3 separate regions of the Homo sapiens genome follow, and all the other regions are linked to region 1. Evidence: fine-mapped expression QTL. A gene starts in region 1. Each other region holds a variant in brackets. All regions are shown on one strand. Distances are from middle to middle. Region 1 holds the start of PTDSS1 (phosphatidylserine synthase 1). Region 2 overlaps PTDSS1 (phosphatidylserine synthase 1). Region 3 holds the start of UQCRB (ubiquinol-cytochrome c reductase binding protein).

Region 1 (10,622 bases):
CAAGTCCCTAATTTTTCACCTTTTAAGAGGTAAGGTTACAACTATTTAGACAGACTAACTACTGTTCCTCTGAGATTAGAAATTTGTTGGTAAATTTCAAAGCACACAATGCCTTTCCTTCACTTAATCAGTAGGTGAGAATGCTAAAAATCACCTAACTTTCAAGTGAATTTTGAAACAGAGATTGAGTTTACCATAGCCTGTTAACTTGGCTAAAAGTACACATATGCCAACAGTCTGAATTGCATGGATTAAAGTAATCATATCCCGAAAGTCTTTGTTTTGACCCAATGCCCTCCCTTCCAAGTTACCCTCAAATACATCTTTAAAAGGGCTTCTATGATTGTTTCTACAACCTGCAGTCCTCTCTACAGGAGATGTGACTCTCTAGTACAGCCCTGATTCTGAAGTTGTTTTTGTTTTTTTAAAATCAAACGCAGCATGGAAGACACTTAGAACTACACATTACCTTAAGCTAAGGAATCAGGTCTGTGATCTTTTGTTCTGTTTTGTGCTTCTCATCATTAACTATCCTTTCTCATCATTTATAGCCAGCATCTCCTCCCTGCCCTCTCCCCAGCTCTCTTTCCTTCATATTCTACTTAACCTTATATCATTTCATTACCAGCGAAATATTCCTAGAATAGGACCCATAGGAAGGAGAGGATTGACTAAAAAGCGACCATGAGGGAACTCTGTGGAGTTAATATAATTGTTTTATTTGTTGATTGCAGTAGTTCTTACACACTAAATGCATATGTCAAAATTCATAGAACTATATATCCCACAAGATGAATTTTACTTGATATAATTATACCCTAATAAAACTAATTACCACTAGAAGAATTTTGTTTTAAGAATCTAAACAATAAAATATTTAAAAAGCAAATGTTTTATATGTGTAGCTATAAAATAATCTTACACGTTAGCCCACAAACTTTTTTTCTTACCAGTAAAATAAAGGCATGATAGAAGTTCATCAATAGAACTGGTATTATTCTTTTTCTTTCTTGGCACAAAATATTACCTGAAATGGGCTAGCAGAAGGTAAACAGGTAGCTTGTTCAAATGGCCAAAGTAGGGAAAGGGAGACTTTTCTGAAAGTTCAGAATTACCTTCTAGAAACAGCTCAGAATCAAAGCTGGATATATTTTGTGTCTTCTGTGACTGTTCATTCATGGAAGGAAGCAGACTGCTTTGGGCAGAATTATTCTCCTGACTACTTGAGCTAGTAGACTGGGAACTATTCCATAAGGAGGAAGTCCTGTAAGTCTTAAATCCCCACTGGAGAAAGCAATTGTCAGAGGATATCTGAGGCTGAGCAGAAAAGCCATGTAACAGTGTTCTTGCTGGTCTAGTAAAACGTTTTGTGAGTTGTGCAGCATTAATGAGGCTCCTCAACTTAACTGAGTTAAACCATCTGGGTATCTGTTGGGCTGACAAAGCCATTTTTCTTAGTCTACAAAGGAAAGATATAACCGTCAAAAGAAGAGAAATTTAATTTACTTAAATGTTTAAAACGGTATTCAAACAACAAAAAGATAAACTGGAAATTATTTTTTTCTAATTGAAAGGTGTTTAAATATATATTTAGTCTAAAATAGTGAGATGTTTCTTATGTACAGGAAAAGCCAACAACAAGGCAATCTCAGTTACAAACCAACAGACAGGAACTTCTGAGTGGAAAAATAAAGATATACTTTACAATTTAAAAACAAAATGCAATGACACTGGTGTAAGAAAAATGCTTAAAACAAAAATCTGCAAATGTTCAAGTGACAGCAGACCTCACTAATCTGTTAATTTAATCATTTAAAGAGAATAAGCTGATGCAAATAAGTGTTCTTGAAATTTGGTGTGAAGGGTGTTTCCGCAGCACATTGCTGATCAAAGTAACACTGAATTATTCAAATGCATTTTATGTATATAAATTTGTCCCAAAATGAAAAAACAGAAATCTACTGTGTCCTAAACAAATCATCAAAATATTATCATTGATATACAGAACAGTGAAAGCAGTTTCTTGCTTCATTCTCAGGGCTGAACACTGTTGATTACTTCACAGATAAAGCTGTTCTTCCAAAGGGAATTGAACAAAACCAGTTTTGTCAAGTTTTGTTTCACTGTAGGAAAGGAGAAAAAAGCCTTCAAAAAGAAAAGGTCAAAACTAGTAACAAAACCAAGTGACAGAAATAAATAAGCAACCAGCAATTAATACCTGTATATTTTGACTGAAAAAGTAGTTTTCAAAAATATTTTTATCAGGAAAGGCTAGTGCTATGTTAAACTCCAGGAATATGAAGGGATTTTATATTTAGCCAGCTAATTAGAAAGGTAAATTTGATGCATATAATCTTACGTTAAATAACATTATCCATATAAAACACAGGATGGAGTCAGGATATAAGAAATGCTCAATAAATGTTAGCCATTATTATTGGTTACACAACCAAATACAAAAATTCTGCTGAATTAATTGCTGCCTACAACTTTATACTTTGTTTTTCTGCATACTGGAATTCAGCTTGTTTTATGCTCTAAATTAGACCAAATACTTGAGGGTCTAATCTTTTCTTGGAGATCTGTAGTTTTGGGAAGTTTGCTGAAAGAGATTTTACAAAAGTGAAAGTTTCCTTTCATTCTGCAATTATTTATTATTATTATTATTATTATTTTTTTTGAGACGGAGTTTCGCCCTTGTTGCCCAGGCTGGAGTACAACGGCACCATCTTGGCTCACTGCAACCTCTGCCTCCCAGGTTCAAGTGATTCTCCTGCCTCAGCCTCCCGAGTAGCTGGGATTACCCACGCCCGCTACTATGCCCGGCTAATTTTTTGTGTTTTTAGTAGAGACGGGGTTTCACCATCTTGGCCAGGCTGGCCTCGAACTCCTTACCTCAGGTGATCCACCCAGCTTCCCAAAGTGCTGGGATTACAGGCGTGAGCCACTGCGCTCGGCCCATTCTGCGATGATTTTAGAAAAGAAGTAAGTATTCACAATACCCTGCTGGGATAGGTGGTTTCTGTTAGATTTTGGTGGGAAATGGGACTCCAAATGTGCCAAGTTTTCCCTCAAACCTACAACATTCATTCTCTGCACGGTAGTCATAAGGGCACTAAATTGAAAGTCAGAAGACCTCGGTTGTGCTACCTTGACAAGGCTGTTTCTGGCAGCAGTCTAACAAAAGCAGCAGTCTAGCCCATGATGTGGGGGGTGGGGGTGGGGTCAATAACTATTCTTCAAATAATGCTTTTTTAAAAGGCTAGGGGTACAATAAGATGATTCTTAAGGCCCCTATCAGCTCTAACATTTTTTGACGTCTAAGCACTTCATCCTACTTCAAACTCCTGAAATCCCAAATTCATCCTGAAGCCTTTCCACACTCAATACCACTTAAACATCAGGAAGACTCACTTTCAAATTTCACCCCGTCATTAAAAGATCTTTGTGCATACAACTAATGTTTATCCTTGCATTTTTATTTACAAGTGCACTATCTTCTCCACATCCTTTCATTGCTGCCTACACATCTTAACAATTGATTAACTGTTCATGCACGAGAGCAGAGCTGGGTCTCATCCCTGGATCCATCCTTCCGGGGACTATTCTCCACTTTCCCAGAGCCTTGTACTGCTCTAATGTTTGCGGAATGGAAATAAATCAATGGCAAGTACAGTTAACTCACTTGCTTACACAGTATGCAAAAGCGGGTAGGGGATGTGCAGATGTGTATAAAAGCCCTGTAAGGTGGTAACCTGAAGTCTTCTAACAAGGTCCTTTCATCAGGAAAATTACAGAAAACCCTTAAAGAAACTGAAGTCTCTTAACAATTCATATATACTGTTCTCAATGAGTGCCTAGTGCTTCGCTAGAAAAAGGCACTGAAATAGAGTTCAAGATTTCTACCTACGAAATGCTATAAATGAAATCAGGAGAGAAAGGGAGGTTATGGGGGCAGCTTCCTAATAAAGGGTCTCTCAATACTTCCCAGGCCATTTTAGCCCACTTCAGTTCCCCAAACTTGCGCAGGAAGGCAGAGCCCCCTCCTGAGGCTTCTCACACTGCGCTAATTAGCCAGCATGGTTGAGTTTTCACTACATCAGCCAGGGAAAAACACAAAACAAAACCAATCACCCTCTACTGGGCCGCGAAAACCTAAAGGCCCTTGAGGCCCTGGGGCGCGGTCTGGACGCGGGTGCGCCGGAACCTGAACCCTCGCCAGGAGCGCGATCCTCGTGCTGGGGCAGCTCCTGCTTTACCTGTGGCGAGGCCTGCTTCCCGTAGCGGGTGACCCCGGGACCGACCAACTCGCTGGGCCGCACGTCCCGTCCCGCCGCGCCGCACGCCGGCTCCTCAGCCCGCCCTACACAGCGCAGCCGCGCTCCCGGGCCCACGTGGGCCGCGCCCGGAGTGGGCGAGACCATGTGCCGGGTTACGCGGGGAGACAGCGGGCTACGTGCTCTGAAAAGAGCCAGCCAGGGGCCCCGGCTACCCTTCTCCGGCTCGCTATTCCTCTGAAGTCCTGTGGACTTGGAGTCTGAAAATTCCTCGAGTGGTAGAGATGCCTCAGCTAGGATGACAGCGTGGGGACGGCCGGCGGCGTCCCCTGCCCCAGGCCGCGGTGGCGGCGCCGCGACCCCGCCCTCTCGCGCCTGTCCTTCCCTCTGCTCCCAGCCTTTGCTGGGCGCCAGACCCGGCTTTGCCGTCCGGCTATTAGCCTACTGTGGCTAGTCACCCCCGGGGTCCCGGCCTTCTCGGGCTGGGGCCGCCGCCACCGCGGCAGGACGGGGAGGCGGGCCATGGCGTCCTGCGTGGGGAGCCGGACCCTAAGCAAGGATGATGTGAACTACAAAATGCATTTCCGGATGATCAACGAGCAGCAAGTGGAGGACATCACCATTGACTTCTTCTACCGGCCGCATACCATCACCCTGCTCAGCTTCACCATCGTCAGCCTCATGTACTTCGCCTTTACCAGGTGGGGCGGCCCAGCCGAGCGGGGGGCGCGTCCAAGGGCTAGGGAAGAGGCGGGAGGGAGGGTGGCGGGGAGGGGGGCCCGGCATGGCTCTGGGTGAGGAAGTGGGCTGGCTGCTCCACGCACACGCACTGGCAGCCCGCCGCCCACGCGGCCCCTCCGCCCGCCCGGTGTCTCACAGTACGCTAGCCTGCTCCCCTACCCCTCAGTGCCCCTTCTCCATACAGCGCCTCCGGTTACACGGGGAACGCACGCGAGTCACCTAGCACGATCGCCCCCTCACCCACCGCACTCAGCATCGCTCCACACAACATCACGACGCGGGCCCCTCCTCTGCACTGCTCCAGCCTTCGTCCCTACCCAGCACACCGCATGAATCATGTCGTATGCACCACTTTCAGCACACACCGCTACACATACAAAGCACCCCAATCCACAGCGCCTGCAGGCACCATACACAGGCCCAGGACACAACCTAGATCCCTTCCTGTGGAACTCCGGTATTCGGCACTATCCGTAACGCACAAAAAATGCACATGTGTGCTGCATACACGGTCTTTCCTGTGCAGCACTTCCCGTATGCATTGCACACAAGTCATCCAGCATAACACTTCCCCCAGCCTCAAACACTACCATCTGTACCACGGCACAAACTGCCACTCTAAACACACACCTCACAGCGGACCTTTCCTTTCCAGCACAGCCCAATACCCATCATCTGTGTACATGGCTGCACAGACACCAGCCCGCCACACATCACGCGGTGCATACCCTGCTCACTCATTACCTAACATACGTGCTGAAATGTGATCTTGTCCAGCAATTTTAATGGTGCCTGGGGTATAGTAACTGCTGTGTGTTAAATGAAACACATAAACCTCACACAGCATAACACAACTCTCTTATTCCCTGGAAAACATACACACACATTCTAATATATACCGGTTCATAGGAGCTGCCCAGCCCAAATCTTGAACACACCTCATGTTAACTCTGGCACTGCGCCTGTGGCTCCTCATTCCTAACCTAGAGAACTAATTCATCCTTGGTTCATAAGGAGGTACACACCGTGGTTCCTACTTAGAATGATTTATACTTTCTGAATGAACCTCTTTAAAGAAAGGGAAGTCACACCTCTCTCACCATTATGGCTTAAAAGGCCAACTTAGAGTAGAGTAGTTTTTGAGCCACACTTTTGGTTTCAAAACTGGCTGTGTGTCCTTAATTAAGTTGCATAACCTTGCTCTGAGCCTCAGGGGCCACACTCGTAAAATGGGGATGAAATATCTACTTATATAGGGTTATGAAAATTAAATGAATGTGTGTGAATGCATTTAGCAGAGTCCCTGGAGCACAATGTACAATTCATGTCAGTTACTTCTCTCCCAGTATTTTTATCCAACAATCAAGGTTCTCTGTCAGGGTCAGCAGAACATGTGTAGGGATATATATATTGGGTAGTCACAAGGATTGAGAGAACTTCTAGTATTTGGGAGGGGGAGCAGTTAACGGATACTAAATGTATTGTGACATATGTGACAGCGCTGTACAACATAAAGGGAATTGTCTTCTACACAGTCGTTTGCATACACACACACAAGTGCCGGTGGTGCCTCCCTTAGGAATAACTGCAGTTTTTCAAATCCTCATAAAACTAATATCCTCCCACATCACACTTGTTCCTTACCTCTGGGATTCATTTGACTCTTGGTTCTTGTTATGTAAGTGTTTATCCATTTGAAAGAATCTACCTAAAGGTATAAAGCTTAAGTAACAATTGCTTACTCTTTAATGATTGAGGGATCTTGCCACTATTACTATAAAATCTGCTAAAGCTGTGCAGCAGGTGAAGACCAGACCTTTCCACAGTACCTGACCAGACATATTTCTAGCTTTGGAGAGAAATGAATCATGTCCCTAACTATGGTTACTTTCAAATACTTCATTATGTTGCCTGATTTTATCACTTAATAGCTGTGTGGCCACATAATTTTGCTAGGCCTCAGTTTCCTTATCTGTATGTAAAATGAAAATATCAATACATTAATCTGTCGGGATTATTTGTCATGAGGATTAAATTCATCTTTTTAGATAATCTGTTTAGCTCAGTGCATGGCAAGTATTAAGTGCTTAATAAACATTAGTGGTTATTACGATGTGATTTCATTGAATGCTACTGTCTTCTAATTTATATTTATTATTGAACGAGGATGTAGTATGCTCTGTAATTGAGAAGGATAAAAGCACTGGAAAAATGGACATTAGATAACATACATACCTGTTTGATGTTAACTTCAGTTTAACTTCATCTTAGGTGTGGGCTTGAAATAATGAAATTAGTGAGGGAGTTTCTCTGGAAATTAGAAAAATAATTATGGTATTTTGTTTTAAATAATGAGAAGCAAGAATGAGCCATTTGTTTCAGCCTTTCATTTTTAATATTATTCTAGGTCCTTTCAAAATAGGTTTCTCTTCCTCTTTTCTGATATAAAAAGTCACAATCTTCTGAAATTTCCTTTTACATCATATTCTGTCAAGGCAGTCAATAAATTGCAGCAGTGAAAGTATAAGAAATGAATACGAATTTTAACAGCTTGTCCAAAATAATAGAAGAACCATAATCTGAACTTCAGACTGTAGTCTCATCCAAAAATGTTAACAATTTTATTTCTTCCACTAATTTCATAAAGAGACAGAAATCACATAATGAAGAACTAATTAATAACAAGTTTCACTTTATATAAAATCATAAGCACCATTAATAGAATTCGTACTTACTAAATCTTACTCATTTTTTGTAATGATTTGTGACTTAAGTGGGGCATTACAATGATAGCTCTATATTCCTCCATAAAGACGGAAAGTAACGACTTCTTAAATGAAAATGTATCCTATGTTCTTTTGTAATGATTAACTCCAGTGCCTTATTATTTATTTTATAAGATTTTAGTTGGACAATTGTTCAGTGCAATTCTTTCAGTAAAACTTAAAAGATATGTCTTAAAGTTTGTTTTGCAAAGACTAGTTGTCTAAGAGAACGAGGAGATAGGATTCTTTTGGGATGTCATATAACCAGTATGTGAGAAACAGTACTTGGGTACTGTCACATGCTTCAGAGATCCAGCAAGAATTTAAAATTACAGAGGATTAGATACCTTGCACTGAAGTCTGAGACAAGTTTGGATTTGTCAAGTAGTTCTTTTGTTAGATGGCCCTTAGGTCAATTCCCTGTTAAACCATAGTATTTAAATATCTCCTGTCTTTATCACCATCATTAAAAATAAAGTTAGATACTACCTAATCATTTTCCTATTTGAAAAAGCTCATTTCCAGCCTGGACAACATGGTGTAACCCTATCTCTACAAACAAACAAAACAAAACAAAACAAAACAAAACAAAACAAAAATTAGCTGGGCGTGGTGGCATGCACCTGGAGGCTGAAGTAAGACGATCACCTGAGCCTAGGAGGCAGAGGTTGCAGTGAGCTGAATCACGCCACCATACTCCAGCCTCCACCCTACTCACTCGACAGAATGAGACCCTGTCTCAAAAGAAAACCAAAAACTTATTTTCCCACATTTTAGAATAAGTAGGCTGGGTGCAATGGCTTACGCCGGTAATCCTAGCACTTTGGGAAGCCAAGGTGGGAGGATTGCTTGAGGCCAAGAGTCCAAGACCAACCTGGCTAACATAGCAAGACCCCATCTCTATTAAAAAATAAATAGTATTTTTATAAATAAATGCTTACGCATATGTCTTAGAAGTTTGTTAGCAAAGTAGGGCAAGGAAAACTTTTGTCTCAAGCTCAGAGTATAATAATTACCTATAAGATACCCTCATATTTACTCTGCATTCAGGGGTTGGTAAACTTGGAAATATTGAATGCCTTTAGTTTAAAAAACTCAAGCTTTAGATTTAGAAAACACCAGAATCTATTAATTCACATTCAAAGAAGCCCACCTCTCCTTAAGAGGCACCTGCCATTAAACAGTAGAATCAGCCTTTGTTAGCACTTGTCCAACAAAAATTGTTACTTACCTAGAAGACGTTGCCTTTCTGCGGATTTGTGTACTTAAGTGATCATCAATTTGTCTATGCTTCATTTCTCCTCGATTTAGAACTAAGGAGACAGGCAAGGACAGGGAAATGGACAGACTGATTGATTGACTGATTGATTTGTTAATAATGGTTTTTACTTAATTTCCCTTATTGGCTTTGGAACTCCAGTTCACCGTCATATCATTGGGGCATACTTGTGGCCACCTGTATTATATTGCTTATGGATACTTGCTAGCATTCCCTGTTCTTTCCCTCTTGACCACATAAATTCCCATTAGAAAATGTCCCCTGATACTGCTGATTCAGTTGTCTTTATCCTGTTTCCTTTATATACATCATGTTCCTTCTCTCCCAGCAACAAAAGCCCTGCATGCCCTTGTTGGCTGACACTAGCAATGTTAAATGCTCATCTATAGTGATTATGGGCTAGGATTAAACCAGCCCTGGAGGTGAACATTGTGTTAGGTTGCACCTGAGGTCCAGTTATCAATGATTGTTAACATTTCTTTTCCCTGGTTACCATTTGAATCAAATTTTTTATTGAACTTAATGTTTTACATTTTTTCTTATACTGATTTCCAGAGTTTTATGTCCATAATACGATTTCTAATTTGTTAAAGGGGGAAATGTGCCATATATTTCTCTGGGGTCTACTGCAGTGAATGGGCACTTGGGTGACTTAAATATTTATTTGGCTTAGATGATGCCTCAGCCCACAGAGATTATATACCTAGGAACTGCTGCCTTTCAGACTCCTCTTTAGTAAGCAACCTTAATTCAAGTTCATCTGTTCTGAATAAACTGTGTTTAGCATTTTAGATGTAGTTCTATTACCAGATGTAACACAATTTATCTTGTGACATAATTCCTATTGCCCCAGATTTCTGTAGAGAAGTTACAGTTTTTCAGTCTTAACTAATCCCAGAACGAGGACTAGTCCGGTCAGCCTGCACTGCTTCCTCAGCCCTGGCATCCCATTTAATTCAATTAATTCAATTCAACAGTTCATAGTCCTCATTGCCTCTAGCCCAGGTTTCTCCCAACCTGGAGTTCACCATCTCATTTATCTTCAGCAGGTCTGATTGGGCCTTTATAGCTTTCGGGACTGTTCTCTTTCCGTTCCCAAGCCTTTGCTCAGCAAACTCCCAACCCTTTGGGATAGCTGACTCTCAGGCCCTGGCTTCCCCTCCCTCCAGTGCTGCCCCTGTGATCTTTTTAGACAAAATCATGGTCCCATCTTTCCCTGTTTAAAATTCTCGTTTATCTAATAAATACTTTAAAACATATCACCTTTCTCCTGCTTTACTTGATAACTTAGCTGTAATTCTTCACAAGGATTGTGACTTTCCATAAAACGAAATTAGTATGGTATGAAAGATAACACCAAAGCTGGTTGACATCGGTATTTCAGTAGATGCCTGTCACCTATAGGAAAGTACTAGCTGGACTCCAGCGTCCTTTGTAATGGAGTAAGTCTACTTTCCCACCTCTATCCCTCCCTCCATACACAGCACACCCAACACCCAACACCCAGCAGGCCCCGGCAGCTCACGTGTCCCATACCTAGGCAGGGCTGCCATCTCTCAG
Region 2 (10,622 bases), 71 kb after region 1:
ACCTGTAGGTATATGCCAGTTTGCACGTGGGTTTAGTAGGAAATGAACCAGTGGCGCTGCTTGTGCTTCTCACTCTCTCTCCACGCTGCCACTGTTCCTGCTTCCACGTAACTGGCACGGAAGAGGACAGCTAGCCAGAGTGTTGCTCTCCTTTCTTTTTTGGAACTAAGAAGGCACTGTGTATCCAGCAGCTGCCAGGAAATGTCGCTGATAAAGGAACTGGGCCAAAGCTCGACTGCAAGCTGCCATGATGAGAATTCACAGCCCCTGCCTTCCCGCCCTACCACCAGACTGTGGCTGTGCAGAGGAGAAGCTGCTGCTGTTCACTGTTCCCATGATGCTTTTCGTTCTCAGGGATGGATACATGGATGGAGAAATAAAGCTATATAGACATAAAGCCAATATTTGTATCAGTAGCCATCCCTTAAACCCAGATCCGGGGGTTTCAAGAGATCTGAGTTCCGGCTCCAATGTTCACCTCTCTGAGCTTTCATTCTTCTTCTGGAAAATGAGGGGCAATGAAATTAATGGTCTCTGAGGTGACCTTTTGGATCTAAAGTTATGATTCTTAGAACTAAAATTATTTCCTTGAGAAGGTCCCTCCATGCTCTCACAGCTGTCCCCACAGTTGGTGCAAGATGAGAGGGGTCCAGGAAAATGACAGGTGCCCAGGTGTCCACAGGAAATGCAGGGGGAGAGATGGAGGCTCAACAGCCAGGATGGCTTGATGTGAATGGGTTTCTAGAGTGAGGAATTTGGAAGGAGCTGGCAGTTGCCTTGTTTTGTTCTGGTTGCTTTGCTTGCAGTGGGGAAGGTGTGGCCGGGGAGATTCATGGCCCTGCTCTACCGCTCACCCTCCCTCCCTCCTGCCTTTGGTATGCAGTCCAGGCAGCTGGAGACTTTTCCTAAGCTTTGATTTTTTGACATGTTTTGAAACTTTGGATTCTTGTCTGTGCTTTTCTTTCCTTAAATTAGGGTATAATTTAGGGTGTGGGGGCAGGCCCAGTGAGTGGGGCAAGTGTGGAGTAGAGGTTGTCCCTGCCTCTGGGCACCCACAGGCCACACCCTCCTCATTCCACTCAGGGCCTTAAGAGCATCTTTATTTTCTCTTTGTTTTCCTATCCATATAACCAAGAAAAACAAAGCAATAAAAACTGGGGTCCACTCAAAAGCCTGGAAAAGCAAGGGCAGCCCTGTCCAGCTAAGCTCCCCACCCTCTACCCTGGGAGTGTTTGTCCGTGGGCCCTCAGGTGCCGCTGTGACCTCTTCCCCCTAGAAGCTGACACACTGAGTCCTCTTAGCGCTCTCCTGTGATGGGGAAGCCGGGAGAGAATGGACCCTGAAAATCAGAACTAGAACATAGAATCCTCTCTATCTTCTTCAACAGAACCCGCAAAGCTATCAAGAAAATGCATCCCACCATATTGCACATCTGAAAATTGTCTTTCTTGCTTTCTGATAGTAGAGTCACAGGTAGTAACTGTGGTCTCATCATAACCTTTGTTGTCAGAAGCTTTGGGTGTGCACCCTCCCCTTGAGGTCTGATCTCTGCCACGTCCAGCCGTTTTGTAACCGGCGTCCAGACGGCAGAAATGCATTGAACGGTCCTGCATTGATTCCCACTGAAACCCTGAAGTTCTGGGAAATTGAACTTTTTTGTGCAGCATCATTTGTTTTTCTCTTCCAGGCTTTCACCACTTTCCTCTGTCTGTACGGCATGATTTGGTATGCAGAACACTATGGTCACCGAGAAAAGGTATGGAAGGAGAGGCAGGCATGGCCATTGTTTAAAATAATCACCCCGGGCTCGGCAAATTCGCTCAGAGCACGTGCCTGTAAGGATATGGCGAGGTAAACACTGAGGTTGGGGCCTCCAGTCCTGCCACTGCAGAAACCGCATGTCACAACTCATTCCCTAGCCATTGCTGGCCCTGCTTGTGACGGCTCTGTTCAGTAGACCAATATTTTTGTCTAACTTTTGTTAGATAAAAAAAGTTATGTTTGTTTGGAGAAAAAAAGAAAAGTGATGGGAAAGCTGTGGACTGGCTTTTGGAAGCTGGGTTTTCTCCCCAGCTCTTGAACTGTGTGGAGGCCTCTTCCTGTGTTCCGGCCTGTGGCTCTTCTGGGCAAACGCTTGCCCTGACCTTCATTTAGTAGATATGAGGATACCATAGAAAATAGACATGAATGGCTTTAAGACACGATGGCCGTCTGGTAGACGGTAATATTTTTTTCGGTAAAAATAACACTTTCATCCTTTATTTACACCTTCAGTCTAAAGAACTTAAGGCATGTTGTGGAAGATTGATTCTGCATCACCTGTGAGAGGAAAGAACCTTGTTTTTATAGCAGAGAAATATAAGCACAGGGAGGTTCTGTCACTTGCCAGTGATGATCCCAGCCTGGGAGAGGCAGGGATGCAGCATGCTCGCCTTTTTGCCCTGCCACTTCTCCCAGGGAGTTCCTAAAATTCCTGCACTAAGCCTGTCTCTCTCCCTAGACCTACTCGGAGTGTGAAGATGGCACCTACAGTCCAGAGATCTCCTGGCATCACAGGAAAGGGACAAAAGGTATCTTGTTCTTGTTCGTTGTTTAAAATTTTACTGGGTCCTTGAGATGTGGAATTATTACCTATTCTTTGAGTGGAGATGATATAAGCCTTGAAGGGTCTCAGGCCTACCCATTGAATGTCTCCTGTCACTTATTAAGAAACATGCAATGGCTGGGCACGGTGGCTCACGCCTGTAATCCTAACACTTTGGGAGGCTGAGGTGGGCAGATCACTTGAGATCAGGAGTTCGAGACCAGCCTGGCCAACATGGTGACACCCCCGTCTCTACAAAAAATACAGAAATTAGCCAGGTGTGGTGGCGGGCGCCTGTAGTCCCAGCTACTCAGGACGCTGAGCCAGGAGAATCGCATGAACCTGGAAGGCGGAGGTTGCCATGAGCCAAGATCGTACCACTGCACTCCAGCCTGGGCAGCAGAGTAAGACTCTGTCTCAAAACCACGGCACTCCAGTCTCGGCAGCAGAGTAAGACTCTGTCTCAAAAAAAAAAAAAGAAAAGAAAAGAAAAAGAAACATGCAAAATGCTCACAGGATCTGAGTGAAAGACTTGGTTTGTAAGAAGAGGCTCCATGTAGCTCTGCCCTTCGTGAGGGCCCCACACCATTTCAAGCACCCTGATGGGAACGTTCTTCCTCTTGGCTTCCATCATGAGTGAACAGGAAGAACTGTATATCCGGCCAGGCACAGTGGCTCACGCCTGTAACCCCAGCGCTTTGGGATGCCATGGCAGGATCATTTGAGGCCAGGTATTTGAGACCAGCATGGGCAACAGAGCAAGACCCTGTCTCTACAAAAATCTTAAAAAATTAGCCAGATGTGGTGGCACATGCCTGTAGTTACAGCTAGTCAGGAGTCAGAGATAGGAGGGTCACTTGAGCCCAGGATCACTCCCATGTGGAAGACAGAACAAGTCCCTGCCTCTTAAAAAAAAAAAAAAAAAAAAAAAAAAAAAAGGTACTGTGTATCAGGAGGAAAAGCCTTTCAAAAGAGGGGGATCATTTTAATGGCATTTATTCAAGAGGCAGGGCAGTGTAAGAGATTTTGGTCGTGTAGTTAGGGAACCTCCACTGGCCTCTAAGGATCACTTTGGGAATATTTGGGGCCACCTGGTTATTTCAAAGAATTAGACTTGTAGAATAATGACATTGAGGTGATTTCATTGGACAGTAATTCCTCGTCAATCCTTATAAGCTACTTGGGAAGCTTGGCTGAAGAAAGAAAATTAGAAATACTAAAGACTGAATTTTAGCTCACAAAATTGCTCAGAGAAACGGTGGGCCAATGGAGAAGAAAGCGCCCTGTTGCAGTCATTCTCCTAAGTTCTTTTGGCATCAGGCTCATTAAAGATCTCCCAGGGGAGACACTAACATACACTCTGCTGAGCTGCTGGCCGCCCTTTTGGGGAAAGTTTCTCCTGAACCACGGAATTGATCAGTGAGCGGCCCGTTGTGAAATCTGATAGAGATGGACAGAGGGGCTCCCCAGCTATCTTATTTAGAACCATGCCCTTACAAACAACCTTGGCACTTACAGGTTCTCCACTGAAGAGAATTAAGCAGTAGTAGAGATGTATTTACTTGATGGAATAATAAAAAAAGAAAAATAACAAAAACAGAAGTCTTCTGAGTGGGGAAAGAATCTCTTAGTCTAAGTCAAATGCTCCTTACAGTGGAGACTGTAACTCTGGTAACTTTTTTTTTGTTGGCAGCCTCAGGTGGAGATTTCCTATGGGGCTGGATCAGAGCCCTGGGGCAGAGAACCCTTTGGCTTGGCCGCTAGGCCAGGCAGGGGCTGAACAAAGGCTCAGCTGGAGGGCAGAGGCTGCCCAGTGCCCTCCATCGTGGGCAGCAGGGGCCTGAATTGTAAAGATGTTCTCCAGATCAAATGTAGAGGGTGTGAAATAGCTCTGATTTTATAGTGTCAAGAGTCTTTCCTGATGTCGGGTTTAGAAGGTGGTGTGGAGCAGGTGAAGGGATGGAAACCCTTGGTTGCAGGGCAGGATGGGCACCGCGTGGTGTGTGTTTTAATTGCCCCTCGTTTGGGCTTCCGTTTCACTTGTGCTCTCACTTCTGGTCCTCACCATCATGACCATGTCCATCATACACAGGACAGATGTACACACGCTTCAGGAACCACCCAGACTTTGGGGCGCTATTGCGTTGAACCCCGCGCCACCGCGTGTGCTCCTTCAGTACTAGTTCTGTGTTTGAGAGCCTCGCCTTCATTTATGAATGAGGCCACTAGGGGGAGTGCACGTATCAGGGAAGAACCTGTTCCCCGGCAAGCCTAGGGCGGTCTGGAAAGGGACAGTCACCAATCTCCAGAGCCCAGGGTGACGGTGTGCTCTGATTCCTTTGGCCAGGTTCTGAAGACAGCCCACCCAAGCATGCAGGCAACAACGAAAGCCATTCTTCCAGGAGAAGGAATCGGCATTCCAAGTCAAAAGTCACCAATGGCGTTGGAAAGAAATGAAAAACCCTGGTTAATCAAAGATGTTCCAGAGTGCCTAGAACTGAGAGGGAAATGGAACTCATTTGGAACTCCCCGTGAGGAGGTCGAGGCGCACAGGGCAAGCAGGAAGAGGCGAGGGCACTTGGGGGTCATTATTTGAGATCGTAAGTCTTGTTTCCCACAGACCTGGCCGCGTCAGGCAGATCATCGCCTGGGGGGCCTTTGCCAACGTGGGGTCTCTTCTAACTTCAGCACTTGACATGCGGTCACCGGTGGCAGCGCGGTGTGTTGAAGGGAAACGGTAGCTATTCATTCACAGTTGCCAAGAGCAGCTCCGCGCCTGCTGGATCGTGGATGCAGCGTAAACATCTTCCTTCAGACGAGGCATTAACCCCATGGTTAATGGACTGGTCACCAGTTTTTATTTTATTTTTATGAATCTACCTTTCCATTGATTGATTTAAGTTCAGGCCACTTTTCTGTCTTTTATTTGGTTACTGTTGTTATTTGTTTTTAAGTTAGGATGCTTTTTAACAGCCTTTAGAAGCCGCTGCTGAAATTGATACTGGGGGAAGGGTTCCCCTTCCTTCTAGAGCAGAAAAGGGAGAGAGGTGTTGTATTCCTGTTTGGTAACCTCAGTCTCCTGTAAGACCTCCTACCACATGGCGAGTATACACCAATCAGGAGAGGGTAGCTGCCTGCATAGGAGCCTCGCTTCCGATTATTCCCTTCCCAATATTATTCATCCAGACTTAGCCACAGTGCACAAAAGCAAACCTGCTAGAGAGGCAGTGAACACCACAGCTTCTCCCCAGCTAGGTGCCTTTTACATCGGGTTTGTTCTCCTTCCATGGTGTGTTGCTGACATTGTCACTGAGTCCCATGTGAGGTGCTGGTGAGTATTACCTTTCATCTGTGCCATGCTCTAGAACCTTGACCTTGATAGTTCACCAC[C/G]TCTGATGGATCCCTGTTTTAAATAAAAACGATTCACTTTAAAGCCTATCAAAGGTCTGTCTGTAAAATGCTCATTTTCTTGCATCTTACTGGTATCTTCTATTGATTGTAAGCAGTCTGTGTTTTTCAAGTGACTTTAGGATAATATATATGTGTTTTACATAGTGAGAAGAAAAAAGAAAAGATGTGTATTTTAAAGGGCTTACAGACATATATGTCCTACTTCTTAGACTACCCAAGTGACCAACAGGAATGAACAACATAGTCATTGTTTTTTCCTGTGGTAATGGTTTCCAAGTTGGACTTTTTTTTCCTCTAACAAGAGGCCAGTACCCAGTTGATTAGCTTACAGATATCAACTCACTGAAAGTAATCTTTTGTTCCCTCATTTCACACAGCACAAAGGTTCGTTCTGATGTTTCTTCTTCTTTAAGGAAATCTTTAGCCATAGAAGTGTCACTTTTTTTTTTTCTGCAAAAGAATTCCAAGATGAACGGGTTGAATGAATCATGCCAGCCAGGGTCACATCCTGTCCTCAGGGGGCCCAGTGCTCAATAGTAGATTCTGCGGGAGTGGAGAAGCGTCAGTGGCAGCTCCGCTCACTTGGTGAGTGAGGGATTTGGCTGTGATGAGCCTCAGCTCCGAGCTCTCAAATGTCCTCCAGCCAGCATCTGCCTGCTTCCCACAAAAGGATAGAAGAGAGGCAAAGTGCGTGTTTCATAAAACCTGCCTGCACTTTTATAACCCATCAAAGAGGCCATTTTTAAACACAGGTACAATTTAAACATGATCTTTCTTTGCAAATAAATATGTTTTGTTTCATCCTGTGTTCTGCTTTTCTAAGCATGACATACTTGTGCCCATTGGAGAAGACACCTGTCTCTTCTTTCTCACACCGGTGGTGCCTCACTGAGTGTTTCCGGGTTCATTTTCCGGGAGCACTGGGCCTGACACTTTCACACTCTTCTGACTTTCGCCTTGTTGCAACTGATGGAGCATGTGTGCTTCCTCTGAGGCCAGCCTACAGGAGGCAGCTGTTTCGCAGGTGGTGAATTCGACTTTACTGTGGCATTGTGAAGAGCAGGGTGCACAGGAGATGATTTTTTCTCCATGGCTTTGTAAGAAACAGCCAGGAAAGTTCTCAGATACTTTCCATGCCCTTTCTTTGAGTTGAAACTTTCTATTTCCCTTCAGTCAGAGCTCTTTACTATAGTAGTTACAAAACCAGTGCTTTCCATGGCTGGCCAGAACCACAGCTGCTATTCCTTTTAGAAGCCATACTGCTGGGTTTGGCCTACTTTTTTCACCGTTTCTATGGAAATAAACCTCACATTGATGGAAATAGAATGCGTGTTTCAGAATCATCATTCAATATCTGAAATGATTTGATTGTAAATTATCTCATGGTCCCTGTTTGCAAACCACCCTCTTAAGAGAGAACATTGTTTTGGACCTAAAGCTTGAAGAACGGTTTATGTATTTTTCTCCTTAAGTAGCATTGCATTGAGTGTTAGGTTCTTTTCCCTTTTTTTCATTCTTGGTCTTCCCAAAGCTTCTTCCCACATTTCGTTTGTGTCTGTTTCCACCATTCATAGAAACCTTGGAACCACTCTCACAGCAATGCTAGGATGTTTCATGGACCTGTTAAGCATTTTGATGATACAAGACATCCTATCAATGCCAGTCTTATTTTCGCTAGGACTCTGCTTCCACAGTAAGCTCCTAAGGTGCTCACCCAACCCAGGAGAAAACAAAATTCATTACCAAATACAACAGGTTCAGCCTTCTTGGTCTTCCCTCAGAAGCCACCGTGTAGCACCCTGGAATGATGCCTCTTTATGCCAAGGCCCACCCTTTGGAATTGGGAGGGTTTTGGGTAGAATCCTGCACTTACAGAGGCCCTTGGGGTCATTGAGAAGTGGAGGAGGTTGGACACAGAAGGGGAGGCTAAACACAAGGTGGGGAAGAAAAAATGTAACCATTGGCAGCCAGACTGAAGCTAGCCCTTTAAAATACGGGGTTGGGGGGTTAACATCCGCTCTTTGGAATGTGCTCAGTGACTGCTGCAGAGTTCCTGGGCCACCCTAATGTTTACCAGGTGGGCGTTGTTTATATGGTTCTTATTGTTATGACAACTAGAAATCCCACAGTAGACTAGACAGTGCTCCCTACCATTTCCCATTTATAGGATTGAAATCAAGATGTAAGGAGAGCTGGCCGGGCGCAGGGCTCACGCCTGTAATCCCAGCACTTTGGGAGGCTGAGGTGGGTGGATCGCCTGAGGTCAGGAGTTTGAGACCAGCCTGACCAATATGGTGAAACCCTGTCTCTGCTGAAAATACTTAAATTAGCCGGGCATGGTGGCAGGCACCTGTAGTCCCAGCTACTCGGGAGACAGAGACAGAAGAAATGCTTGAACCCAGGAGGTGGAGGTTCCAGTGAGCCGAGATCACGCCACCGCACTCTCTAACCTGGGCGACAGAGCGAGACTATCTCAAAAAAAAAAAAAAAAAAAAAAAAAAACTGTAAGGCGAGCTAAGACGTCTGTCTATCAGTGTTCCATTACATAATACACCTCTTTCCTTCACATGTGTGTGCACATTCTCAGGATTATATTAGAGATTTGATTCTTTGCAAGGGTCAGTATCAGTAATGGCTGAGACTGGTGGGCTGCAGTCATGTTGCTATGCCGTAAGAGGTTTTTACAACATTTCCCCTTATCACACTTTATTCTAACCTGATGATGGGCCTATCTCAGGTGAAGATTGCAATAGTTTCCTTAATTGAACTTTGGTATTTGATGCATTAAATAAATATGGCTTTTTAATTTTGCTATCTTCTGTGAATTTAAAGGAATTATTTCATTGATGTCTACCAAAGAAGATAAAAAAACAGTTGGATGTGAAATTTTTTTAGGTTGTGGGAATGCTACGTTGTAAAAATCTTCCTTTTCTTCCATGTTCACTAAAAAATGCCTTTAGTCCATTTCAGAAAGTTCATCTGTGACTTGGTCTACTCTGATATTCCCTTTCTTGCAGCTTGTTAGGTGGAATTTTGAAGTTGCTTGTCCTGCAAAGAGATATTTGTTGTCACAGTCTAACAGTGTTCAAGGGTTTGCAACATGTCCAAGTACCTCCAAGGCCTCACAGGGCTAAGCTGAATTTATCCCTCATGATACTCTGATACTCATAATACTCTGGTTGAAGCCTGGTCTCTACCTCCATATTCAGTACACCCAGCTGGGGAGGCGGGTGACAGCAAGCTTCCTGCCTGCATTTCTAGCAAAAGGGACTCCTAAGCCCCAGCATTGTTGTCCTCTTGGAGCAGAGAGAAGGGTGTTGGCAGATCCCTTCCCCTCTCGTAACCCCAGTGAGGACAGTAACATCATTCAGAACATAGAATTTACCCAAGGGTTTTGCTTTCACAGCTGATGCAACCAACCACCCAGCCTCTTTAAGTGATCTGGGCTCACGCTCGTACTTGTGCCTGGGAGTTAATTGCTGGTTTTTCTTTGTTACTGGAATGCTCAAGACATCACCCTGGCCAGGGTCTGCAAACTGTGGGCACCGACAGTGCCCTGCGGTGGCAGGAAGATTTGCTCAGAGCTGTGACCTCCTGCCCCTCGGAGCAGTCATCCCAGGGCGTCAGAGCCTGGTGTTCCATTGTAGGGTGTGGCCCCTTTCTGGATGCTGAGTAAAGGAGACTCTTGTGGTTTTACAAACCACAGGAAATGAAGTTTGTCTGCCTTTAAAAGAAAATTGGTTTTCTAACATTTGAGACTAAAAAAACCAAAATATTTCATTATCGTGTCTGAAGTATACACACAATAGCTTTCATTACAGAGTCAAATTGCAGGCAAGGTTTATGTAACAATCCATACTGGAAATCCGGGCTGTAAGCCTGACTGTTCCCACCCGCCCGACAAAGGGCTGTTTGGGCTCAATCTCATCTCTCCAACTGCATACGTCATGGACTGATTAGGTATTTTATGAGTGCAGCGTGGGAAAGGCTTAAGAAAGATCTTCAGCTTTCAAAATGTTAGGGATCCTCCACCTCTCTTAGAGTGGATGAAATCCAGACCAGGAGCAGGGGAATAAGAGTTCACTAGGGCCACTGCTAACATGACTTCCAGACAGTGGCATTCAGAGGATTGGAGCCTTCAAAACACCCCCGTGTGGGGCTCTCCGCACCCCTTCCCTCTCGTCCCTGAATCCTCCCAGCAGCCACAGTAACACAAGCTTGCACATAGAGCACACGGCCAGGAGGTGCCCGGGGGCCACCGGAGCAACACAGCCTGAGACTCTGTGCCAGGCTCCTCCCCTGGATTCTTGTGCACATGTCTTACTCCTATCAGCAGACCACAGCCCCATAGATCCTCACTGGCCTCAGAGCTGGCAAATGGATGGCAAGGAGCTGGTTCCCTGGTGACCGCCACACCTTTGCTCCTCCTCCTCCTCCTTGGAAGGAGACTCAGATCTCAGGTGCTTGCTTGATTAGAGATGGCCACACCTCCAAGCCACTCTTCAGGTGGCTCCAGGGGTGGTTGGCTGGTTGCGTGCTCTGTGGACAGAATAACTGGTGTTGGCCTTCGTTGTCTTTTGTGTCCTGTGAGTAGGCAGACTCCGGCCTTGACATCCCTGTGTTTCTG
Region 3 (10,622 bases), 32 kb before region 1:
GAAAGAGAAATAACAACTTGATAATAGCATATGGAAAAACGTCTAGCTACTCAATCCAAGAAATGCAAGTTTAAACAAGAAACTCTCCAACCAAATTCACAAAGATTGCTTTTAATGAGAGCACTCAGTGCAGGCAGGAATGCAATAAAGGGACCCTCGTGATTGCTTAGATGAATATAAATTATTATAAACTTTTGAAAAGCAAATTGGAAGTCCAGTATTGAAAAACTTCAAATATTCATCCCCTTTGCCCCAACATTTTCACTTCCCAGAATCTATCCAAACACTCTGCTGCTCACAGGATGAAGTCCAGGCATCTCAATATGGCGTACACCTTTCAGGTTGCATCTCCCATGTCTCTCCAGCTGATATTTGCCACTCCATCAGTGCAAAACTGCCTGTCCTTCCCTAGACATACATCCTGCACTTCCATGCCTTTGAGCATTTCCTGCTCATTTTCTTCTGCTTGGAAAGCCCTTCACCATCTTCTTGGCTTAGCTAACTTTGCTTACTGTTCTGGAATCAGCCACATTATCAGAGGCCCTGATTCCCATCCAGGTTTAGTTAGTTTACCTTCTCCATGTTTCCATAGTACCCAGTACATATTTTTTGTGGACAATTCACACAGTATGTACATCTATGTTTACATATTCATGCATCTGATTACATACCTGTCTCTACCATCTTGGTTTTTCTCTGTATTCCCTACACTGGTGGTTTTTAGCTGGGAGCAATTCTGCTCCCCCAGGGGAACATTTCCAGACAATGTCTCAAAACATTTTTGGTTGTTACAGTTGGAGGCAGGAGGCGCTACTGGTACCTATCGTGTAGAAGCCAGGATGCTGCTAAATATCCTGTAACACACAGAGGAGGCCCCCACAACAAAGAATTATCTAGCCCCAGATTTCAACAGTGACGAGGCTGCTATATTCTTCCTAGCTTCTGCCTAGCCTGGAACATAAACACATACATCAATTTAAAAAATCCAGAAAATTATGTAATGAACAAGCATAAAATGGACTTTCGAAGCCTAATTTCTTCTTCCATACAATGGGCATTATAATAGCCATGCCAGAAGGTTGCAGGGAGGATTAAAAGAGACAACATACGAACAGTGCCTAGTACAAAGCTAGTATTCCATCAGTATTAGTTCATCCCAACAATAAAGAGCGTAAGTTAAATCACAGACCCAGAATGTTTTGGTACTGAAATGAAAAAGACTTTTTAGTCAAAGCCCTTCATTTTCTAGCTGAGGAAGCCAATCTTTAGACTAATGACTTGCCTAAATCATTGGCCTCAGATCAGTGTTTCCAGTTTAATGGCAAACCACATTTTAAATGCATGCATAAGAGAAAAATTGTAAGCTGACTCCTTTGTAAAACAAATAATTATCTTTTTTTGGTTTGGCTTGTGAATACAATTGTCACAGATATGTATACAATTTTCTTAAAATATTTAGAATACTAACAGAACAATTATTCAACTGGATAATGTTACCAGAAGTTTTCAGGGGTTTATTTTAAAATTACATTTTTACATTTATGCAAAAATAGGCACATGTATTCAAACAAAAAGTTCAATAAATAATACACTCTTTCTTTGTAGGAGATATAATCAGAATCCAGAATGACAATTTAAATAGTTTATCATAAGCCTCTGGAATATTAACAGGCTTTCTGACATCTATGCTAAAAATTAACCACCGTATAATGATTCAGTTCTTCTTTCTTGCTCAATTGCTAATACAATAAAATTTCTTAGCAAAATATAACTTAGAGGCACTATCCGACCTGAGATCTCAGATTCTAACATGTTATGGCTTTTAATATGAACGCCAGTATAACCAGAATGTAAACAAATTATGGCATATAAATTAAAACATTTAAAATATTTTAACATCTATAGACTTTATTAGGTGTTCCTTATACAGTCATCTGGTATGTTTAAAGAGTGAGCAATCATATAAAAGGAAATATGGTCATAACTGATTGAAGTAATAAAATCCTGAAACTAAATAACATCTCATAATTCATTGCACAACATATATTAGATTTCATTACATCAGTATATAGCTTAGTAGTAAATTCTCCTGATGGCCATAAACCTCTAAGGTGTTGTCATCCTGAAAAATGAAGGAGGGGAGGGAGTTGGTGGGGCGCAGAATGGAGAAATCTTCCATAGTGCTCGTGTGATGTACACTAAGTTGTAAAGTTATAGGGCATCGCCACCTAGTGGCAGAATTTCATGCCTTGTTCTAATAAAGGGATTTTCCTTGTTTTCCAAAGAGCAACCTGTCTTACTCACTTTCTAACCATCCCTCTCTGATACTGTCCCTCCTAAAATCCATGCTTCCTCCCATACACCATAAACCCATCTGCTCTTCATCCATCAAGCTGTCAAGGATTTGGTTATGACAATCTTCATGTTCACCTAACTTTTTAATTCCAAGTAGTTTGGTTATTTTCAAAGCTACACACAGGATGCCCATATTTTTAAAACTCCATCCTATTTGTGAAGGATTATTACTTTGGGCTTTGGCCCAGTTTTTATTCTTACTGCTGAATCTTTTCATAAGTCAAAATTAGTGCAGAGTTAATGCTTGAAAAGGGAGTCCTTAAAGTAAATAACTAAATGAAATCACTACCAAAATGTACACTTTGGATTTATTAAGATTCTAGAATTTAAAAACAGGAAAAGGTGCCATTAGTAAAAACTCCATCACTAACATTTTGGTACCACTCGTAGAGCGTCACATAAATATTCAGACCATGATAACTCAGTGCAGGAATGTTATCAAATATTTCCATGCAATCTGGAACTAGGACCACAGCTGGCAATTGGGGGTCTGAAGGCCCGACATCCCTTACGCTGCTTCCTACATCTTGACAACAGGAAGGCCAAGTGATACTAGGTAGTGCACTACAACAGTGAACATAAGCCAGCCATCTGTTTTTTTGCAAAGTATAGTAAAACAAACAAACAGAACATAGACCACTTCAGAGTAAACAAACATAACTTTCTTCAAGATGTAGGAAAACTGTATATTCAAAACCAATCTCAAACTTTAAACAACAAAAGATATCAAACATTTTAAACTGTACAAAGCAAATTAGCAGGATTTGAATATTGGCAGTTTTAAAATGTCACCCATCCAAAACACAAAACAGGGAGATAGCCAAGTCTTAGCTCCATCCTAATCAAAGCTGTCATGCAGATCCAGTTCCACTCTTCTCATCTCCAGCAGGTACTTCACTCAAGGAGGTGACACCCAAGGGGAGTAGATGAACCAGAAACAAGAGTGCCACATAGAAGGAAGAGAGGAGACCTTGGACCTTAGCTACTGGTTAGCTATTCGACATTGATGATATTCAGCGTTTTCCCAAGTTATTCTTTCTCGCTTCTCAGCACATAATTTACATTATGCATACTATATGCCAGAAACTGTTAGTGCTTGACATGCAGTCAGTTAATTTTCACAACTGGGTGAAGTAGGTTTCTATCATTAGCTCTATCTTAGGGACAAACAAACTGAAGCACGGAGAGGTTAAATTGTATTCCTAAAGCACTACACAGTGAGCAAATAGATTCAGACCTGTGCAGTCTAACCCAGAATTAGCTCTGAATCACTCTACCATTCGGTCTACAGGACAATGTAGACCAGACTACAGGACAATGTAGATTTGGTCTACAGGACAATGCAGAGTGCCTGTGTTTCAGGCACTCTCATGGTGATTTTCCACACAGGACGGCTTTTGATAATAGAAAGGCCCTCTCTTTCAAATGAAAGGACTTCACTGATGGATTAACAAATTCTCACCCATTCACCTGTGTGAGCCAAATACTAGATCTACTTTCTTAGTCTTCATAACAAGCAGGACGATAACCATAATTTATAATGAACACAAAACATTGATCTAGTGTTCAAAGAACTTTTGCACACTTGTTCTCATTTAGAAGAATGAAGTAATCTGGAAACATAGAATAGGCATACACTTTGGCTTTAGGAAGAACTCTTACAAAATCAGAGGTTGCCTTATGTAATACCACACTTTACCTTGAGCAGGTGGATAGCCTGGGGGTTCCTGTTATACCTCAGTCTTGGTCAGTTCTATTTGTTCCCCTGTCCTTCAGCAGTGCCCTTAGGCTTGCTTTAAACATTAACAGCATTCATAAGCATGGTTTCTAGGGTCAGAGCCCAGCCTCCCTCCACCCACCCGGCTCCCTACACACCTTGACAGTGCTCTTTGAGATGCCTCAGTTGTAGTCTCCTTGTAATTGTGCACAGTAGACGTCTGAACGAATAGACCAGAGTCCTGCAAACGTGATCTTGAAATCACTATTAAAAGAGCCTTTGCAGAGATCTACTCAGGAAAATTTTCTGAATAGACAAATGCTTTTAAAGGGGGTTCTAGACAGCCCATCTTCTTGGCCTCCTTCTGCAAAGTAGGACTACATTAAAACCTTGTCACAATGTGACCTGAGCAAAACCATTATCAAGTGATCTAGTTGTCTTCAACCATACAAAAGAAAATTGACATGATTTCAGGATAGGTTTAGAAAAATAACGACCAGCGAAAGGAAAAAAAAAAGCGGGGGAGGGGGTTCCTAGAGAATTTAAGAGGCTAATATTTTAGCAAAAATTTAAAGATGCTCTTTATGATACACACATTTCTCATTGCTTTACAAACTTTAAATGTAACACAAATTCGTTTTTCACACTGTTTTGTTATTTGAGGTAAGGCATTCCTGCCACACACAGCAATGACTTGTCCTGGAAAACCAGGGAGGCTGCAGGTCCTACTGTTCCTTCTCTACTAGCTGTGGCTCCACACTCTCACCTCTACCAAAGAAAGCATTTCAGAATTTAGGAGTGGAAATGATGACAACATTGAATAATCCTAATTTTTTTTTTGAGACAGTCAATGTCGCTCAGGCTGAAGTGCAGTGGTGTGATCTAGGCTCACTGCAACCTCCACCTCCTGGGGTCAAGCAATTCTCCTCCCTCAGCCTCCCGAGTAGCTGGGATTACAGGTGCCTACCATCACGCCTAGCTAATTTTTTGTATTTTTAGTAGAGACAGGGTTTCACCATGTTGGCCAGGCTGGTCTCAAATTCCTGACTTCAGGTGACCCGCCCGCCTCGGCCTCCCAAAGTGCTGGGATTACAGGCATGAGCCACCATGCCTTGCCAATGATTCTAATTTATATTTTTAAAAATTACCCTATAATCTTAAAACTTTTAACTGACTAGTATCCAACCCTTAAACTTCATAACAATCATTTCCAAAGTGGAAAAGTCACTGGGATATGGGGACAGTATGATTTGTCTTTATACTTTTATTTTTCTAACATCTTTTTGTTTTCTAGTATACATGTTAGCACAGGAGTATGTATATTACTTAAGTATGCCTATGTTGGGGTGCAGACATAATTTCTTTTTAAATGATAGGATGCAAAATCAAATCTGTTTGCATACCAGTGAAGAGGCTATTTCTCAATCTTGGCAAACTAGGGGGTGCATACCCCCTTCTTTTATTCAGTAGCTTCCATAAGGATGTAACTTACGGAAGTTATATCCTTCCATAAACTGATAGGCTATCCAACCAGTGAGGAAAACTGATAAAGTGGCTTCTGAGCTCCAAGTAGCAGTTAAACACAACTAAATATATCTTGAAAGTTTGGAAAAAAATTTAACAGTAAAGGGATTCAGTAGTTATTCAGTATAAGGTTTGGAATTCAAAAACTCCAGCCATTACAATAGACATTTATTTAAAGTAAAACATCTTCAGACCAAATAATTCTTAAAATTGTTTGTTTCAAGTTTAACCATCTTCATAACAGCTGCATCCACAGACTTCAACTACATGATTACTTCTTTGCCCATTCTTCTCTTTCTTTTCTTTCCCGAATAACCTCTTTCAGATACGGTTCAAGGTAGAAATTTTCCTAAAGAATGAATGAAATATTATATGTTACCATCACGTACTGATATATCCCAAACACTCAACAGGTCTTCAATAACAAGAAAAAAGCAATTACTTTTGAATTTCCAATTTTAGAAAACATATTCTCAACCTAAGAACTATCTGCTTTTTAAAATGTCAAATCTGTGGTGATGGTGTGATAAGTTGCTTTGATAGGTTATGAGGGGGAAGTCTTTTCGGGAAGAAAAAGAAATGAATGTCCACAGGCCTTTGCCTAGTTTCAATGCAGTTCAAGGGGTGAGAGTTTGCTTCACAGAAGCTCTTCTTGGGATCTGGAGGGACACTCAATGGGCTGATCTTTTCATCTAAGTAGGAAGCAGAGTGCAGAGCTGGAACAGCAAAGACCTGGGAGGCAACAGACCTGGATTTTAGTCCTGGCTCTCTATATTA[G/C]AGACTTGCTTAGTAATTTCAGAAGAATCATTTCACACGTAAGACTCAATGTGGTTTTCTTCTAAAACGGAAATAACATTTGCTTTATTAACCTCACATATTTATTTGACATGACTCAGAGAACTCTAACACTATGCAAATGAACATGTTTCTCTTGTTTCTAAAACTCCATCCTTAATGAGCAACACTGTCAGGTAGATAAAGCTGTGCTACCTCTTCATATTTGGTCCACTGCTCTTTAGGCAAGATCTGATGCTTCAAGTTCAGGTCCAGTGCCCTCTTAATGCGAAACATCCTGTCATTATAAAGGTTCTCAGGAAGTCTTCTTATGGCTTCTTTTACATCTTCATCCTCGTATATTGTATCATCTCGCATTAACCCTATGATAGATGACAAAGTTAGATTGCACATGCATCTCAAAAATCGCGGTTTTTTTAAATTAGTAAAATACCTTTATGACTTATAACTTACAACTTTTGGTGAACTATCGAATTCAAATCACTAGGTTCAATGGAAATTCAATGCATTTCATACATTATAGGTTGGTGCAAAAGTAATTGCAGTTTTGCCATTAAAAGTAATGAGTTATTACTTGATATAATGGGTTACTTCTTGAACTAGACTATGGAAACAATATATGAGCCTCTTAAAATCCAATGCCACAAAATTCATATTTTATCTAAACCATTTACAAAATATTTTAAATGTTTACTTTGTTTTTAAACACACATTAATAAACCACATCTCTTTTTTCTCATAGTTTAAATCTGAGATCAAGGTATTAAAGAATCTTAAAATGATAGTATACTAAGGAACAGTGACTTTTGCTTACACTTTCTTCAAGCTTCAATAGTAAAAGATGAAGTTCATGGTAAATTACAAAGTTCTAAAAAAGCTTAGGAATCATATGATTGCATGGACGTGATAAAATTTTAATATTCAAAAACTCTCTACTTTCAATGTTTATATAATTTAAATTAAAATTTTAAGTGGAAGGCCGGGCGCAGTAGTGCACACCTATAATCCCAGCACTTTGGGAGGCCGAGGCAGGTGGATCACCTGAGGTCAGGAGTTTGCGACCAGCCTAATATGGTGAAACCCCGTCTCTACTACATACAAAAAAAATTAGCCAGGCGTGGTGGCACACGCCTGTAATCCCAGCTACTCAGGAGGCTGAGGCAGGAGAATCACTTGAACTCGGGAGGCGGAGGTTGCAGTGAACCGTGATTGCGCCACTGCACTCCAGCCTGGTGACAGAGCAAGACTCTGTCTCAAATAAATAAATAAATAAATAAATAAAATTTTAAGTGGAAGAGTTGGGAAAGGGGGTGTAGAAGGAAAATGTCTTACTACTTAAATCATTACCAAGTCGAACATTTTAGAGGCTTTCATCCCTCTTCTCTCAAAAAAACTTTAAAAAGGAACTGGATTTAACATAATGTGATTTAATTTTAAAATCTTCTGATGTATACAAGAACTGAAATGGTTTTTGGAACCACAGTAACACTTGCAAAAGCAATACTCTCAGAAAAACAAAAAAAAAAACAAAGAAACAACAACAACAACAAAAAACATTAAACAGCACAGCTGCTTACCCAGTTTATTGAATCCTGCAGCATTGTAATACCATTTTCGAATACCATCCAGCCACTTGCCTGATGCTGAAACTGATAATTGTCACACTGTTAATTGCTACAATTTAATTATACTATATGAACACATTGATAGGCAAGCAACCAGTACTCAGTTATCTTGCTGATGAATGCAAACATAGAAATAAATTTCCTTTTAAAAGTATATAGTATATACAGCAAGAATTTAATCAAAAGAATTAGATTTAAAAGAAAAAAGTTTATACTCTATAAAATGTTGATAAAAAGTGCTTATTTTATTTATGAGCAAAAGTGGTTGCAGGAAAATGGTGGCAAGTCATGAAAGAAAAGGGTAAACTCAAACACTGAATGTACAAAAGATCCATAGGTACATCGTGTGCCCTTATGCCTGCCCTGTTACCTTCAGAAATGAAGGGGTGGGAGATAGGAAAAGGACTTGGAAATTTCCATCATTTGTAGTTTCATAAATAGATCACAGGAAATAATTGTAAACTTTTCATTTCAAGAGAGCTGGAGTTGTAGGGAAAAGACAGTGAGATTTCAGCATAGACTGGCAGGTCTAAATGACCCTCATCCTCTAAAATTTTTACTCGATATTACAGTTATTTCATTTGGCCACATTCTTTAAAAATGTATGTATTTTGGGGAGGATTTTGATACCATTAGTCATTTAAACATTAATATGGATTCGTAAAAGAAGTCCATTTACCTCCTCCTAAGCAACTAAGTTCCCCCCAAGGGAATGGATATTGAAAAAGGATGAGAAATAGGTAATTTTAAAACTGTTTGGGGAACAGGGCTGAGCCTGATGAAGTAACCCAGCAGGGTCCAAGTACAGCAGGACCGTATCTGACATTTTAGGAGAGACATTTTACAAAAGGAGAGGTAGAACAGGTTTGTATTCTCTTTTAAAATTTTGTCTAGGGTTAGCCCTTACCAAGGAAGGAAAGCAAACTCTCCTTTCACTCAACTCTCCTTGCTTGCAAACTCAGTGCACTACAGATTACGTGGCTTTAGCAAATCTCCTTGGAAATTAAGAGTCATGTATAAAACTGCTGCTAGAAAAACAAGTATCAGTCAACAATCTACAAACATACTTGTGGAAGACAGATTATATTCAACCACCTATCAGTGACTATAATAATATTCACTAAGCACTTATTGTGCACCAAACACTTTCCTATTTGCTTTACCAACATTAGCTGATTTATTTACATGTCTGTTACTACAGAAGGGGAAGCTGGCTTACAGAAGTGATCCCACCCAAGGTCAGAGTTAGCTAATGGGAGTTGAGATCTGGTCTATGTAGTTCCCAAACACGCACAGAAGCAGTGTCTTGAATTTAGTAAGACTCCTTCAATATCTGCCAAATTAATAAAATAATTATTTAAAAAGTCTCCCCCACCCCCAAAAAGCTCAATGTCAATTAGGTTAACGGATGTTTCTGGCAACCTGATGTTTCCTAACAGCTTCACAATTGCTGGGGGCGGGGAGAAAAGGATCAACATTTTTTAAGCTACTCCAACTTGGTTGCATTGCAGTGAGACGAGATTGTGCCATTGCACTCCAGCCTGGGCGACAAAGCAAGACTCCGTCTCAAAGACAAAACAAACAAACAAACAAAACGGCTACTCCAACTTGTACCGCCAGAGGGCAGAGATTAGCAAAAAAAAAAAAAAAGAAAGAAAAAAGAAAAAAAGAACCTACAATAAATTCAAATTTCTCCAAACCTACTGATCAAGCTGACGCTCTAGATAATCCAAGGTCAACCTGAAGCGTCGCTCGTATCCCTTGCTCAACTGTCTCTGATTCGCAGTTTGAGAAGCGCGAGGGGTGCAATGATATTTCCAATTCTACTTCCTTGGGTCACTTTGCCTCAGTTATCTTATCAGCGTAAAAGGGAAATTAATATCTCCCTCGTCGCAATGGCAAGAAAATTTATAGGGCCAATGCACACGATAGAGCACTTGGGTCATAGAAAGCACTGAGCTCATTCGGGTTGAAAGTCATCCACTAGTTATCCTCTTGTGCCCTTTAACTTTTCTAAGGCCAAGGGGAAGGACTTCCAAGCACGGGCAGCTGGAACTCCAGGGCTGTCAGAGCCACCGCGGGCACCTTCACAAACAGCGGGTTAACATCCCAACCCTATACAGGCAAGCCCGCCCTGGGGACAGCAAACGAGTGGGGAAGCACATCCTTTTCACTGGACTGAAGCAGCCAATTTCCCTTCCGCGACAAACTTGGCCACTTACAAAGAAGAGAGAAAACGGAGCAAGCTGCAGCAAAAATAAACGGTGAAGCGCGACGATGCCGGCCAAGAAGACCCCCAGTTACTTACCGGCCTGCTTACCAGCCATTTTGACCAGAAAGAGAAGCGTTGCCTTCTGGGTAAGTCATAGAGGACAAGCTGGGCCCAGTCCGCAGGCGCGTTACGTCACATCGCGAACAGAGAAAGGCCGCTTGCGCAGGCGCAGTTCTGACGACTGCCGTTCAGCACCTGCGTAAGCACCTCTCGGCCAGGGTGAGGCCAATGGAGTAGGCGGGGCATTTTGCGTGCTACATTCTAAGAAGTATTGGTTGTGATGTGATGGGAAGAACACAGGTCAGGAATTAGGAGACCAAGGCTTAAAGCTGGG

Evidence for each region. PIP is the estimated chance that this variant, and not a neighbour inherited with it, causes the effect.
Region 2: its variant is fine-mapped to the expression of PTDSS1 in whole blood (TOPMed, PIP 0.98).
Region 3: its variant is fine-mapped to the expression of PTDSS1 in whole blood (TOPMed, PIP above 0.99).

The regions. Positions count from the first base shown.
Region 1 is chr8:96,257,242-96,267,863 of GRCh38, forward strand. PTDSS1 (phosphatidylserine synthase 1) reads left to right here and starts at 4,661. Exons shown (of 13, transcript NM_014754.3): 1 at 4,661-4,978. The coding sequence starts at 4,800. MTERF3 (mitochondrial transcription termination factor 3) reads right to left here and starts at 4,369. Exons shown (of 8, transcript NM_015942.5): 1 at 4,260-4,369; 2 at 1,116-1,459. The coding sequence starts at 1,449. LOC105375652 (a long non-coding RNA gene) reads right to left here. Exons shown (of 3, transcript XR_928431.3): 2 at 9,015-9,096; 3 at 7,565-7,651. RefSeq lists enhancers at 3,122-3,815, 3,967-4,026, 4,509-5,201, 5,347-5,586 and silencers at 4,190-4,514, 4,267-4,416, 4,597-4,966, 5,017-5,196.
Region 2 is chr8:96,328,526-96,339,147 of GRCh38, forward strand. It overlaps PTDSS1 (phosphatidylserine synthase 1), which reads left to right. Exons shown (of 13, transcript NM_014754.3): 11 at 1,688-1,756; 12 at 2,501-2,570; 13 at 4,932-8,470. The coding sequence ends at 5,041. Among named protein-coding and RNA genes, the nearest start is that of PTDSS1, 72 kb to the left of the region's middle. The variant C/G (reference allele first, on the strand shown) is at 5,975.
Region 3 is chr8:96,225,188-96,235,809 of GRCh38, forward strand. It overlaps UQCRB (ubiquinol-cytochrome c reductase binding protein), which reads right to left and starts at 10,358. Exons shown (of 4, transcript NM_006294.5): 1 at 10,325-10,358; 2 at 7,969-8,040; 3 at 6,587-6,753; 4 at 1-5,945. The coding sequence starts at 10,343. The coding sequence ends at 5,868. UQCRB-AS1 (UQCRB antisense RNA 1) reads left to right here and starts at 10,106. Exons shown (of 2, transcript NR_183275.1): 1 at 10,106-10,374. RefSeq lists an enhancer at 10,085-10,364. The variant G/C (reference allele first, on the strand shown) is at 6,374.